Linked DNA regions of Homo sapiens: all the other regions are linked to region 2. The links come from fine-mapping of genetic effects on gene expression. A gene starts in region 2. Each other region holds a variant in brackets. All regions are shown on one strand. Distances are from middle to middle.

What was found. PIP is the estimated chance that this variant, and not a neighbour inherited with it, causes the effect.
Region 1: its variant is the best candidate, but not a certain one, in a credible set for the expression of PPA1 in whole blood (INTERVAL, PIP 0.85).
Region 3: its variant is the best candidate, but not a certain one, in a credible set for the expression of PPA1 in aorta (GTEx, PIP 0.53).

Annotation. Positions count from the first base shown.
Region 1 is chr10:70,208,224-70,213,449 of GRCh38, forward strand. It overlaps PPA1 (inorganic pyrophosphatase 1), which reads right to left. Exons shown (of 11, transcript NM_021129.4): 7 at 1,335-1,462; 8 at 982-1,067. Among named protein-coding and RNA genes, the nearest start is that of PPA1, 23 kb to the right of the region's middle. The variant C/T (reference allele first, on the strand shown) is at 2,819.
Region 2 is chr10:70,231,173-70,236,398 of GRCh38, forward strand. PPA1 (inorganic pyrophosphatase 1) reads right to left here and starts at 2,257. Exons shown (of 11, transcript NM_021129.4): 1 at 2,092-2,257. The coding sequence starts at 2,155. RefSeq lists a silencer at 1,899-2,468.
Region 3 is chr10:70,186,735-70,191,946 of GRCh38, forward strand. No RefSeq gene overlaps it. Among named protein-coding and RNA genes, the nearest start is that of SAR1A, 19 kb to the left of the region's middle. The variant G/A (reference allele first, on the strand shown) is at 2,480.

The DNA.
Region 1 (5,226 bases), 23 kb before region 2:
AAATGAAAAATGAATCATCTTTGCTGACCTGTTATTTAACATACATTAAGACCATTTTCATAGAAATCGTAAGATACGAAAAAATAGAGAAGTTAACTTAAAAGCCAAATCTTTTTCCTTTTTTTTTTCTTTTGAGACAGGGTCTTGCTCAGGTGCCCCAGTTGGAGTGCAGTGGGGCAATCACAGCTCACTGCAGCCTTGATCTCCAAGGCTCAAGTGATCTTCCCACCTCAGCCTTGCTACAGGCAAGCGCCACCATGCCTGGCTAATTTTTTTTTAATTTTTAGTAGAGATGAGGTCTCACTATGTTGCCCCCACCAGTCTCCAATTCCTGAGTTCAAGTGATCCTCCTGCCTCAGCCTCCTAAAGTGCTGGAATTACAGGAATGAGCCATATAGCACCCAGACAAATGCCAACTCTTAGGACTGTACATTTTTACACATATAACTCTTCTCCATTTTTCTTCTGTTTGTTGGAAGGACAATGTTTTCATTTTATAGGACATTATCCTGACACAGAATAGAAGATTTCTGGGAGAATTATTTTTGTACATTGGCTGTTTCTCGTACTCTTTTTTTTTTTTTTTTGAGACCGAGTCTCGCTCTGTCGCCCAGGCTGGAGTACAGTGGTACGATCACGGCTCACTGCAGCTTCAACCTCCCCAGGCTCAGGTGATCCTCCCAACTCAGCCTCCCAGGTAGCTAGGACTACAGGTATGTACCACCATGCCCAGCTAATTTTTGTACTTTTTGTAGAGACAGGGTTTTTCCATGTTGTCCAGGCTGGTCTTCAACTCCTGGGCTCAAGCAATCCATCCACCTTGGCTTCCCAAAGTGCTGGAATGACAGGTGTGAGCCACCGCACCCAGCCTTGTATCTCTTTTCTAAGTGAAAGTAACAGTACAGTGTCTTATGATTATTAAAACCTTTTCTGCAAGCTGGTCTGCTTTGTGTGTTAAACATGCAAAGTGTTTACACTTACCAACTGATTCCTTTTCCATTCGTTTTCTTAGTCACTAATGCTTTCCAATGGTCATGAGTGCTTTTAATAATATCAATGGCAAAGTCCTATAATTTGAAGAGGTTTGCATTACAATGATAAAAAGGTATTATTTTCCTATTATCAACATTTCCCCAAAGCCTGATACTTTGTCTCTTCTGAATCATTTCCTTATTCTAAAAATGGAAGAGAATATTAAAGTGAATAAATAAACACCAAGACTGTGTTATGTTTCCAGACTTCTGTTTTGTGAATCTTTAGATGGTAACAATATGGTTAAATTATGAGTCTCAATACAAATGAGCCTAAAGCTACAGTTCTGAATGACATATTACCTTATCTTTAAATTCTGCATTAAACGCAAACTCATTTTCTGGTTTTCCATCAGGAACCTTATACCTTCTAAACCAGTCCACAGTAGCTTCTAAGTAGCCAGGTTTCAGCCGTTTGACATCATTGATATCTAAGAAGAGAAGAAGCATAAGATGACAGTGAGAATGATTTTTTTAAAAAGAAAGAAGAGAATAAGCAGATTTCAAGATGCACAAATAATTATACACTCAACAAAAATTCCAAGTACTTATTTTGAAAGAGCTGTGGAATGACTTATCACGGAAGTTCAAGATAACATTGGAGCGAAGCCCCTTGTTGAGAAGAGAAGCCATACACATATACATTGAAAGAAAATCATCTAGTATCTCTGAATAGCTCTGACACTAAGTACAGAGAACAATCAGTACAATAGTAATCTCTGTTAGGTAAGGGCAAACAGCTGGTGGCTACATAATGAAACAACCAGTTTGGCAAATGTAGATAATTCCTATGAGAAGTGTACAAGATACTGAAAAAGACAGAGGTTATCTTTTTTTTTTTTTCAGAGACAAGGTCTCGCTCTGTCACCCACGCTGGAATGCAGTGGCCCGAACAAGGCTCACTGCAGCCTTGACCTCCACAGTTCAGCGATCCTCTCACCTCAGCCTCCTGAGTAGCTGGGACTATAAGCATGCACACGCCCAGCTAATTTTTAAATTTTTTGTAGAAATGGGGTCTCGTCATGTTGCCCAGGCTGGTCTCAAACTCCTGGGCTCAAGCAATCCTCCTGCCTTGGCTTCCCAAAGCACTGGGATTACAGGCTTGAGGTACTATCCCTGGTCCAGAGGCAGAGGCTATGTCAGAGGATCACAACACTATTACATACTAAAAGATAAGAAAAATAGATTAGATTGATATCCATTGATGGGTTACGTATTAAATGTGACTAGACTTTGCTGGATAGTACAGGCACTGTACATAACAATACTTTAGTTCTGGCTGACAGAAAAGTGCACTGCTTTAAAAATTTTAAGTTTCTGTATAGCCATCAACAATGGCTAGCCTCAATGTTATCAAACTGCACTTCAAATAACAAACTCCTGCTCAATGCAAGCAAACAGAGATACACATCCTAAAAAGTCAGTTAGGAAAAGTATTATGAGGAAGAGAAATACATTCAACAATAACAAAAGCTTATTTATATTTGTATAAGATAACATTGCTTCACTCCAATTTATTTTTTTTTTTTGAGAAGGAGTCTCGCTCTGTCTCCCAGGCTGGAGTGCAGTGGCGCAATCTCGGCTCACTGCAAGCTCTGCCTCCCGGGTTCACGCCATTCTCCTGCCTCAGCCTCCTGAGTAACTGGGACTACAGGTGCCCACCACCATGCCTGGCTAATTTTTTTGTATTTTTAGTAGAGATGGGGTTTCGTGTTAGCTAGGACGGTCTCGATCTCCTGACCTCATGATTCGCCTGCCTCGGCCTCCCAAAGTGCTGGGATTACAGG[C/T]GTGAGCCACCGCGCCCGGCCGCTTCAATCCAATTTATAATCTGCATAAAGAATAGCATGCATTCTATTATCATAATATCACTAAAAGTATGGAAACTTTACAGAATGCACTGGGAAATGTTTAAGCACTAGTAAATTTCAAAGAACTTATAATTTACATGAAATGTGTCACCTGATATAGAAATAATTTGGAAATCCAGAAATCCAACATGCAAATGTTGATGTTTTCCAATAACAGAAACTAATTCTCCAATTATTCAGACACCAACTGAGTGCTCAGTAATTCACTGTGATTCTGATACTATCTACCTGGAGTTAGCATCAGATCTCAAAGGTTAGGGGCTCAGTCTCACAAGACTGCCCCACTTCAGATGCCTCCTGTACTTTTGACTATCAGCTATAAATTAGGGGTTTCTACAATCCTCTCCCCAGGTCCCCTAATTTGCTAAAATGGTTCACAGAACTCAGGAAAACACTGAAGTTTAAATTTCGTTATATAAATACAACTCAGGGACAGCAAATGGAAGAGATGCACAGGGGCAAGCTATAGGATGGACAATAGACACTGCCTTAGGTTGACATTAGGGAAAGCTGCATACTACTTGCGCCATGGGACCAGCCACCCCGAGAAAGTTTTCAGGGTTCTAATAACCTGAACTGCAGGAAAATAAAGCCTTAGTAAATGAGTGCTGACAGAGTGATGGGCTTGGCTTCACTAATTGTGGCCACAGCATGCCAAGTTCTCTTGCATAAGAAGCACGTTGGAAATGCACACACGGACCAACAGAACAGAGCCGTACTACCAAGTAGTGAACAGATGGTGTGAATGCACTCTCACCTTTCAAAATTGAAACGAAACATTAAAGGATTGGCATTCTTCCAGTCCTTCTTCAATGAATTAACACAGATGCAAATATACATCACATCATTTTGAGGGAACATGCTCTCAAGGTGACTCTTATCACTGCTGACATTGACCTCCATCACCTGGCTGAGGCAGTGTTTGTCAAGTTTCTCTGCTCTAAAGTCATCCTCTCCTCTCCCTTACCCACACTGTACTCTTTGGAAGGAAGTCACCAGGCACAACTCACAATTAAGGACCTCCTTGAGAATGGAGTATCTGCATAAATTATTTGGAATTCTTCTGCTTTGAGATTTGTCTATTCTTCCTCATTTGTCTATTTATTCAATCATTTATTTGTCAGTATAGACTCATGGAGATTTATTTTATGTTCCAGGTTATATTACAATACTACTTTATTTTCTTGCTCAAAGTGTTCTAGCTTTGGCAACTCCTATGTATGTACCCAATAATAAAAACATAAGTCCACACAAAAACTTGTACAGGAATGTTCATGGCAGCATTACACAGCCAAAACAACCCAAATGTCCATCAACTGATGAATGGATAAACAAAATGTAGTATATCCACACAATGGAATAATATTCAACCATAAAAAGGAGTACTGACAGATGCCACAATATGCAATATGGATAAACCTAGAAAACATTATACTAAGTGAAAGAAACCAGAAACAGCAACAACAAAGATCCATATATTGTACCAGTCCATGTATATGAGATACCTAGAATAGGTAGAATAGGCAAAGCTATAAAGACAAAAAGCAGATTAGTGGCTGCCAGGGCCTGGAGAGGAGGAGGGAATAGGGAATGACTTGAACTAGTGGTGATGGCTGCACAACCTTGTGAATGAATGAAATGCCACTGAATTTCACACTTTAATTAAAATGGTGAATTTTATGTTATGTAAAATTTACCACCAAAAAAAAAAAAAAAGGGAATGAAGTGCTGATACATACTACAATACGGATGAATCCTGAAGACACTTACTTCGCTAAGTGAAATAAACCAGACACAGAGGCCACCTATATGATGCCATTTACATGAAATAACAGCATAGGCAAATCCATAGGCACAAAGTAGATCTGCAGTCATCAGGGACTGAGGGAAGGGGGACAGGGAGTGATTGCCCATGGATACAGGATTTCCTCTGGGCTGATGAAATGTTCTGCAATTAGAGAGTGGTGATGGTTGTACAACTTAGTGAATATACTAAAAACCACTGAATTGTACATTTTACAATGGTGACTCTTTGATATGTGAATATCTCAATTAAATGTTTTAAAATAAATAAACATACCAACTGAGTGCTGGTATGTGGGGAAGGAAAGGACCAAAAAAACAGTAAGAACCTACCAGATTTTTTCTTTCCTGGAATGAAGGAGAAAGTTTACTTAGTTAATTACAAGTGCAGTCATAGAAATAATGCTTGTCCAGTGCTTTGTTCCTCCATCCTTTAACAGTTTGAAGGTAAGGGCTTACAATTCTGTCATTATAGGTTAAGTATGGTGGTGCTTATGAATTAATTAGAAAGACTTCAGACTTTT
Region 2 (5,226 bases):
TATATTCTAGAGGCCTAACTATAGCCAAAAAGTAATTTTAAAACTTCTTCAGTATTCTTTAGGAAACCTACTGTCCACATCGCATCCCTTCAAGTTTAAAAATCAAAGTGGAGGCCAGGCACGGTGGCTCACGCCTGTAATCCCAGCACTTTGGAAGGCCAAAGCAGGTGGATCACTGGAGGTAAGGAGTTCAAGACCAGCCTGGCCAACATGGTGAAACCCCGTCTCTACTAAAAATACAAAAATTAGTCAGGCATGGTGGCAAGTGCCTGTAATCCCAGCTACTTGGGAGGCTGAGGCAGGAGAATCACTTGAACCCGGGAGGCTGAAGTTGCAATGAGCCAAGATCATGCCACTGCACTCCAGCCTGGGCAACAGAGCGAGACTTTGTTTCAAAAAACAAACAATAAAACATAAAAGTCCCTTTAGGGCCAATTGTGACTTTGCAGTCTGTCCAGCCCTTTATCAGTTTTAAAGAAATTGACAAATGTAATATTATAAAGCTTAAAAAAGTTTATTTCTATTAAGGAAGGATAAAGCACTTAAAATTGGATAACTATGTAGTGGGTTCTAATTATTAGTATTTCTTAAGTTCCAGAGAGTTCCACTTGATAAAAACAGTTACTTCAGCTAGTGCCAAATTCTAGGAGTAGCTTTGGTCTCCCATAACGGCCACCAAATATTAATTGCAAATAAATAACCTAAGTAAAAGCAGTGTGTTTGTTCTGCATATATAGCTTGAAGATCCACCCCTCACCTTCAAACCAGACAGTCACCTCTGTAAGCCTTTCCTACAGAGAAATTCTGGAGCCAACACTATTTCCAGAAAAACAGTCCCATGAATTATTAGTCAAAAGTTACTGGACTGTCCTTGCTGCTTAATTGCAAAATTAAATAAAATGGAGAGTGGGGGGTAGTTCTCACCCTTCCTGGATTTTACCTGATAGTTAACCTTTGGCTAGATGTGTAAGCTTTACAGTTCGCTTTCCTTTTCCTCCCGCACCAGGCTACTTTTTGTTCCTTCAATGCCTATTCATTCGTCTCCTCTACTCCCCGCTTCCCCTTCCTTCATACACCAACTCAGAGTTCGAGGCACCTGCCCATTTCCTTCCAAATAAAACTGTAAAGAGGTTACAATAGAAGCGCCTGTGGTGACACATTTACGAACGCCTCCGTTATCGCCCATAATCTACTCCTAGTAGCTGGGGGTGGGGGGAGTAAGAGGATAAAGAAAAACCCCAAGTAGCTTTCCTCCACCTACAAGGCCAAAAAAACGTGGTGCCCTAAGGAGCGTGGAGGGCGCCAGCATGCAGCCTCCCGGTTTCCCCGTGCAGCCCTAGGTGCAGGACCCGGGGTAGGTACCCCCTAGACGCCGAATCCTGCAAAGGTAAAAACTTGGCACTTTCTCAGTCTTGTTTCCAGACTGACGTCATCTGTTTGATTTGAGGGAAACAGCTTTCTGTTTCATAAGGAGCATTCCCAGCATCGGCGCTGAGGGAAAACAGGCGGCGCAGAGGCAGGAGCACGACCGGGCCGCGGAGGACCGGTCCAGCGCCTTCACAGACGGCTCCCGATCCGGGCCTCAGTTTTCCCGTCTGTAAAACGAGGGGGTGGACTTGGCTCCGCTCAGCGCCGATAATCTGAGCTACGGCGGCGGAATTAAGGTCTTTAGGAAGTCACTGCCCCCCCCGGCCCGGAGTCGCCTTTTCTCCAAACTGAGCAATCCTCTTACGGGAATTATGTTACTTCCAAGCACCTTTCTAGGGTGGGTCGGTGATTTCCTTTTCCCAACAGACCCTGTCAGAGCCAGACACCTGCAAAACTAGCTGGGCCCAGGTTCGGGTACCCCGAGGCGTGACAAAGGGACCATCTCCGTTCAGCGGGGAGGGATGGCCGGAGGCGACCCTCGCCGCCCCGACCGGCGGCGGCAAGTATGCAATGTGAGGCCGGCCAGGCCCCACAACGCGCCCGAGGAGACGGGCCCGCGTCGGAGACCTGGGGCCGAGCGCGGGCCGCACCCTCCCGGGGAGGCAAGGCCCGGGAATGAATGGGCGGACGGGCGCGGAGGGGCCACGGGCCGCAGACACTCACTGAGGAAGACTCGGTACTCCAGGGAGAAGGGCGCGGCGCGCTCCTCGGTGCTGAAGCCGCTCATAGTGCCGGAGTCCTGCCGCCGCCGCTGCCACAGAGCCACCAGCCCGCACGCGGCGCCGACTGACAAGGAGAGAGCCCCACGCCTGCGCACTGCGAGCACTGGACCGGCGGGCGGGGCGGGGAGCGCCTTTAACGCGGCTCTGCTAGTGTTCCCACCCCCGCCGGGCCAACCCCGTGCGCAGGCGCACTCCGCCAGGCCCGGGTGTCCGCACTCCCCAGCCCCGCCCCTCGGGCCCAGCCTCCGCGATGGCAGCTAGGGCTCAGAGGCTGGGCCACGTGGCTGCCGCCGGCGCTGGTTCTGTTCCTTCGGCTTTGGGCTCTGACCCGGGAGGGCAAATGCGCAGGCTCTAAGCTTGGACTAGCTAGGAGTTGACCGCCGACCACGCACACAGGGAACTCACCTTTGATTCTCACACACTCCTCCCCGCAGTCCTATTCCTTATCTCAAAAGGCGTTGATAAGTCACCTGCTTCCCCAGACAGGCTCTGCTTGCGGTCTTAAAGGTGAGCATTTTTCTGATCCGTCGTAACAAAGTTGAGCCATATTACTGACACCCCTAGTGGCTACTAGTAAGGTACTCGCTTCTCCACTTTCTATAATCTCTCTCACTCCGTTGCTTATCTGGGAAGTGAAGATAATAATATAACTATTTCATGAGTTACTGGGATGATTACCCGAGTTAATACACGTCAAATGCCTGAAGCAGAGCCTGTATCTTTGTAAACAATCTGGAAGTTGTTACTGTCACCCTCCCCAGTGGGGGAGGATTTACGCCCCCGCGCCCCCCGCCCCCTCCATCCCCCCTGCCACCCTACTTAACCCACCTGGGTCTCCAGGGGCTTCAGATGGAAGCACTGGGAAGGTCCAGGCGTGAGCTAGAGTCCCGTGAAGGAGTGTTCTCAGGGACAGGCTCTTCTGATCTTGATTTCCTGTTTATATTCCATCATATCAGGCCAGACCCCAAAAACTAAAGTCTGATTGAGGCAGTGGGAAAATATTTGCATCACTTACCTCCCCAGGAATACATGTAAAAGAAAAAAAGTATATCCACAATCCTAAATATAAATTAGCAAATTATTATTCACATTTCAAAGAATGCCTGGTTTTATTTATTTATTTATTTTAATTTCATGGCCAGGATTTCTTTAAATAACTTTTTCTAGAACATTAAAGATAATGTGCCTTAATGACATTTTGAATTAAACCCTTTTTTCCAAACAATGTCTATTGTAAAAAATGAATATTAAATGAAAACCTAGTAAGATCTCCAGTTAGTTATGGTGTCGCTCCCTTTGTCTCCATCCAACTCCCAAACCTCACTGACACCCATTAATTTTCAGAAGGCTGTGATTCACTGATTTTTTGAACATTTCACCACACTGTTTTACTGCTGTTAAAACAGAAGGGCAGGAAAAAAAATTAGCGAAGCAATAGTTTAGTCAATAATTAGGGTCAAGGCCAGGCGCGGTGACTTACGCCTTCAATCCCAGCACTTTGGGAGGCCGAGGTGGGCGGATTACCCGACGTCAGGAGTTGGAAACCAGCCTGGCCAACACAGTGAAACCCTGTCCCTAGTAAAAATACAAAAATTAGCTGGGCGTGGTTGCACGCGCCTGTAATCCCAGCTACTCGGGAGACTGAGGCAGGAGAACACTTGATCCCGAGAGGCGGAGGTTGCGGTGAGTTGAGATCACGCCAGTGCATTCCAGCCTGGGTGACAGAGCGAGACTCTGTTTCAGAAAAAAAAGTAGGATCAAGTTCAAAGAATATTTTAAGGGGATGCTCTTTTGATTGAACTGCTCTATCACTTTTCTGCCTTTGAGCAGATGGAACCAATTTTCTTGGAAAAACCCAGACTCTCATCTGTGACTGACTTAAGAAGACAGCAGTGATGCAATAATAATGTTCTACATACACTTTCCCTTTGCCTCCTGCCAGCTCAGAGCAAGATAATAAAGTCTCACTGACCTCCAGACTTGCACACTGGCTCTTGTTTCATCGAATGTATTCAGAGAGCCAGTCATTATCAGGTCTGGTAAAACACCCAGCCCTGGTGAATTGTAACTTTCCTTTGCAGGCAAGTGTAGTGAGCCCATAGGCCCAAAAGGACCTTGGTCTACCATGTCTCCCTAGGGCCTAGCACAGTACACAGCCTAGAGTAGATGTTTAGTGAATCTTTGCTGGACGGATAGGTAGAGGAATTAATGTAAAGGTGGAAAATACCTTCTTAAGTACATTAGTTTGACAAAGAAGGAGTCCATCTCTTCTCAAATATTATCTTTCTCACTCAGTGACCAAATCTAGTGGCACTTTTCAGTCCATATCCTGTCCCCTTTGCTGTGGGTGACCCTGTTGGGTGTCTCTAATTTCCTTCTTTGGCTTGCGACTACATTCTCTTCTTTTTTTTTTTTTTCTTTTTTGAGACAGAGTCTCACTCTGTCACCCAGGCTGGAGTACAGTGGTGTGATTTCGGCTCACTGCAACCTCCACCTCCCAGGTTCAAGTGATTCTTGTACCTCAGCCTCCTGAGTAGCTGGGATCACAGGCATGCACCACCATGCCTGGCTAATTTTAGTATTTTTAGTAGAGATGTGTTTTCATCATGTTGGCCAGGCTAGCCTCGAACTCCTGGCCTCAAATGATCTGCCCACCTCAGCCTCCCAGAGTGTTGGGATTACAGGCGTGAGACACGGTGCCAGGCCACGACTACATTCTCTTCTCGTGTTCTTCCTACTTCTTTTTTTTTTTTTTTTGAGATGGGGTCTCGCTCTGTCGCCCAGGCTGGAGTGCGGTGGTGCGATCTCGGCTCACTGCAACCTCCGCCTCTCGGGTTCAAGCAATTCTCCCGCCTCAGCCTCCAGAGTAGCTGGGATTACAGGCGCCTGCCACCACGCCCAGCTAATTTTTTGTACCTTTAGTAGAGACCGGGTTTCACCATGTTGGCCAAACTGGTCTCGAAGCCCTGACCTCGTGATCTGCCTGCCTCGGCCTCCCAAAGTGCTGGGATTACAGGCATGAGCCACCACGCCCGGCCCATTCCTACTTCTTTGCTACTCATTTCTCATTCTCCTT
Region 3 (5,212 bases), 44 kb before region 2:
TGCAGCATTATTTAAAATCAGAAGAAATTGGAAATAAACCAAAAGGTGAATCACTAGAGACTGAATACATGAACTGTTATCTTCATTACATAATTAATTGAGTCATTTTGTATAGTATTGAATAGCTTTATAAATGAAGAAGAGTTCACATTTAAGTTAAAATAAAAGGTTACAAAGGTGTAAATCAATTTCCCCATTTTTTAATTTTATTTTATTGTTTTATTTTATTGTATTTTATTTTGAGACGGAGTCTCACTCTGTCGCCCAGGCTGGAGTGCAGTGGCGCTATCTTGGCTCACTGCAAGCTCCACCTCCCGGGTTCATGCCATTCTCCTGCCTCAGCCTCCCGAGTAGCTGGGACTACAGGCGCCCGGCACCACGCCCGGCTAATTTTTTGTATTTTTAGTAGAGATGGGGTTTCACCGTGTTAGCCAGGATGGTCTCGATCTCCTGACCTCGTGATCTGCCCGCCTCAGCCTCTCAAAGTGCTGGGATTACAGGTGTGAGCCACCGCATCTGGCCGGCTATTTTTTTTTCTTTTTTTTTTTTTTATTATACTTTAAGTTTTAGGGTACATGTGCACAACGTGCAGGTTTGTTACATATGTATACATGTGCCATGTTGGTGTGCTGCACCCACTAACTCGTTATTTAACATTAGGTATATCTCCTAATGCTATCCCTCTCCCCATCCCCCCACCCCACAACAGGCCCCGGTGTGTGATGTTCCCCTTCCTGTGTCCATGTGTTCTCACTGTTCAATTCCCACCTATGAGTGAGAACATGCGGTGTTTGGTTTTTTGTCCTTGCGATAGTTTGCTGAGAATGCTGGTTTCCAGCTTCATCCATGTCCCTACAAAGGACATGAACTCATCATTTTTTATGGCTGCATAATATTCCATGGTACATATGTGCCATATTTTTATTTTATTTGAGACACAGTCTTGCTCTGTCGCCCAGGCTGGAATGCAGTGGTGTGATCTCGGCTCACTGCAACCTCAGCCTCCCGAGTAGCTGGGATTACAGGTGCATACTACCACGTCTGGCTCATTTTTGTATTTTTAGTAGAGACGGGGTTTCACCATGTTGGTCAGGTTAGTCTAGAACTCCTGACCTCAAGTGATCCGCCTGCCTCAGCCTCCCACAATTGCTGGGATTACAGGCGTGAGTCACTGTGCCTGGCCTGTTTTAGAAATATACATATATATACACACACAAAGACATGTGTCTCTATCTACAATTGATTCTTGCTATTTGCAATAGTTATGTTCTATAAAGTCACCCCAAACATTGAGTCTGCTTCCCTCTGCTGTTCCTTAGGAAAGAGAATTTGTTCAAAAAGAAGGGAGCCCAATTCTGCATACACTTTCCCCCTCAAATTCTTCCAGCAGATTTCTTTGTGGTTCCTACTGGCAGAGATTGCAGCCAGGCATGGTGGCTCAAGCCTGTAATCCCAGCACTTTGGAATGCCAAGGCAGGAAGATCCCTTGAGCCCAGGAGTTTGAGACCACCCTGAGCAATACAGACAGACCCCATCTCTACAAAAAATAAATGAATGAATTAGCCAGGCATGGTCGTGCATGCCTGTGGTCCAAGCTATGCAGGAGGCTGAAGTGGGAGGATCACTTGAGCATGGGAGGCTGAGGCTACAGTGAGCCATGATCACTCCACTGCACCCCAGCCTGGGTGATAGACCAAGACTGACTCAAAAAAAAAAAAAAAAAAAAAAAAACGCTACAGAAAGTAGAACAAGTCCTCGGGCACCCTCAGGGTCCTAGTCTGTAATTCTAGCACTTTGGGAGGCCAAGGTGGGCAGATCACCTGAAGTCAGGAGTTCGAGACCAGCCTGGCCAACATGGCGAAACCCCATCTCTACTAAAAATACAAAAAATTAGCCGGGCATGGTGGCACATGCCTGTAATCCCAGCTACTTGGGAGGTAGAGGCAGGAGAATCACTTGAAACCAGGAGGTGGAAGTTGCACTGAGCCGAGATTGCACCATTGCACTCCAGCCTGGGTGACAGAGCGAGACTCCATCTCAAAAAAAAAAAAGAGATTGCACACCTGTGACTGAGCACTAGACTAGGACCCTGAGGGTGCCCGAGGACTTGTTCTACTTTCTGTAATAATGACCTTAACTTTCTAACCCTGCACACTATCCCCATGGCAGGAACTGTGGAGTTAAAGCTACAGCAGGACACAGCATGACATTGTGAGGTCCCACCTTCCCCTGTCACATCCTCTGACAGAAGCTATGAACACATCCTGACATGGTGAAGGGTCATGACCAGTCTCTGTGGTCTGCAATTTCAGAATCATGCAAATATGGCTTTGAACTTTAATATCAGTTTCCCAATCACCCACCTTGTCCAGTTCAGTGGTAGAGAGGGTTTTTTTTCCCCCACTGCATCCTGCCCCACTGGACTATATCAAAATCGTGGGGATGTGACATCTTCCACATTAAAACATATGCACAAGGT[G/A]GGAGCCCACTACCTTGTTATCCAGAATAAGGAAACCGAGTCCCAGAGAAGTGAAAAGACCTGCCTGATGTCACAAAGGAGCCAGGGCCAGCATGTAGATCTTAGGACTTCCAGCACAGAGTTCTTCCCCAGAGTGTTCTCAACTTTAACTCCAGGAGTCTAGTGGCACAGTCATGACATGGAAGCCACCAATAGCAACTTGCCCTGAAATAGCACATTTTTCCTTCAAAATTCATGGAAAACTGGCATTTAAAATTGTAGCCTATGGCCAGGCACAGTGGCTCACGCCTGTAATCCCAGCATTTTAGAAGGCCAAGGCAGGTGGATCACCTGAGGTCAGGAGTTGGAGACCAGCCTGGCCAGCATAGTGAAACCCCATCTCTACCAAAAATACAAAAAGGTAGCCAGGCATGGTGGCAGGCACCTGTAGTCCCAGCTACTTGGGAGGCTGAGGCAGGAGAATTGCTTGAACTTGGGAGGCAGAGGTTGCAGTGAGTGGAGATCATGCCACTGCACTCCAGCCTGGGCAACAGAGCGAGACTCCATCTGAAAAAAATATTTTTTAATTTTTTTAAATAATAAAATTGTAGCCTATGAAGAACCTTGTCATTATTCACTCCCCAGTAAAATGGAAGCCCCAGGGCTTTGCATGGTGTCTACCCTGTGGCTTCAGTCTCCTTTGGCACACACTCTGTGTCCCTGTGGGGTGTAGAAATCCCAGTGTGGAAAGCCATGCACAGTGCCACGTGAAATGCCCACGCAGAACCTCTCTGTGGAATCAGGCAGTCACTAGGCTGCTGACTTTGTCACCTTGAGGAGCACAAAAAGGCAGTCCTGTTTGAAAAGCCATTCGAGAAGCAATCAGAAGGTTATTAACAGAGTTCCTGCTATGGGCAGTGCGGGACGTCAGGGGCATAAACATGACTGTGACATGGCCCCTGCTTGTGAGGAGCTGGCAGACTAGTCAGGGATATAAGTTCTGAAGTCACGATCCACTTTCATGAGGAGAGACAGAGAAGCAAGGAAATAGACTTGAATGTGCAGGAACGGGGCACAGCACCTCTGCCTGTCTCAACAGGGAAGGACAGGAGGACAGGCCCTAGGAAGAGGGCTCCGGTGCGTGGGGGCAGTGACAAGGAGCCACATGTCACATTTGAACATCCGCACTACGGTGACAAGTCTGCTTTAAGCCAGAGGAATGTTGGAGCTGGAACAGGCCTTCCAGAGTACTTGGGTCAACCTCTTCTTTTGCAGGTGTGGAACTCATGTGCTGAAGGTGATCCAGCTATTAAACCAGCATCACATGGCTTGCTGGGTGAACAACACAAAGAAGAAGAAGACTAACTCATCTCTGTGCAAGTGCCATGGGGCTAGGATCTGCATTTCCAGCCCCTAGCCTTGTGACAGACCCAAATAAGGAGCTCAGAGACCTCGGGTCACCACGCAACCTTCCCGGAGCCAAGTTCATCATAGTAACACTCAGCTCAGGGTTGCTAAGTGAATTCGACAGGTCCAAGTGGGTAAAGCCTATAGCACAGGGCCTGCATTTAGGAAGTGCTCATAATTGGGAGCTATTATTGTTGTTGCTTTTGCTGTGAGTAGATGTTTGCTGGATGATCTCACACTGATTATATTAAACCCCACTGAGAAATCTTTTGCTGATCTCTGGCATTTATTACAAGAGCAGCGGTTTCAAACATCAGAGTCCTGGTTGAAAAGTGGATTTTAGGCTGGGTGCAGTGGCTCATGCCTGTAATCCCAGAACTTTGGGAGCCTGAGGCGGGAGGATCACTTAAGGTCAGTAGTTTAAGACCAGCCTGGCCAACATGGTGAAACCCCATCTCTACTAAAAATACAAAAAATTAGCCAGGCGTGGTGGCGTGCGCATGTAGGCTCAGCTACTTGGGAGCCTGAGGTGGGAGAATCACTTGAACCTGGGAGGTGGAGGTTGCAGTGAGCTGATATCATGCCATTGCACTCCAGCCTGGGCGACAGAGTGAGATTGTCTAAAAAAAAAAGTGGATTTTAGGGCCCAGCACCTCCCAATTCTGATTCATTCGGCTTTTTTTTTTTTTTTAAACAGATAGCTCTGGTAGTTCAGGGACCACTTGGAGAAAGTCTGCCTTAGAGAGCTGGCAGCATTTATATCACTGGGTGTGCTGAACACCATTCATCAGTGTTCTCCTCCTACTTCATTGATTTTTTTTTTTAATAAAATAAGGCATACTGCATATGCTTTTAGAAAAATAATTCCAAGAGTACAGAAGCTTTTAAAGAAGAAGGAAACTCTCTGACCTTATCTATTCCTTGCTTACTCCACAGTTCCACTCCCCAGAGGTAATCATTGTTACTGTGGTTTTAGATTTCTTAACTGTGGTTTGGATTTGGATTTTCATTGTCTATGCTTATAGAAGCATATCTATTGATATACGTCTTTCCTCCAAATGCTCCCTTTGTAAAAAACACAAATAGGATCATATGATAGAGCAGGGATTGGAAAATGTTTTCTGTAAACAGACAAACAGTAAATACTTTTGGCTTTTGGGGCCATATGGTCACTGTCCTAACTACTGAACACTCCACTGTAGACGGAAGGCAGCCACAGACAATTTGCAAATGAAAAGATGTTGGCTATGTTCCAATAAAATTTTATTTACAAAACAGGCAGCAGGCTGGATTTGGCCCACAAGTCATAGTTTACCACTATAGAGTACTACAATTTTCTCTCCTCAC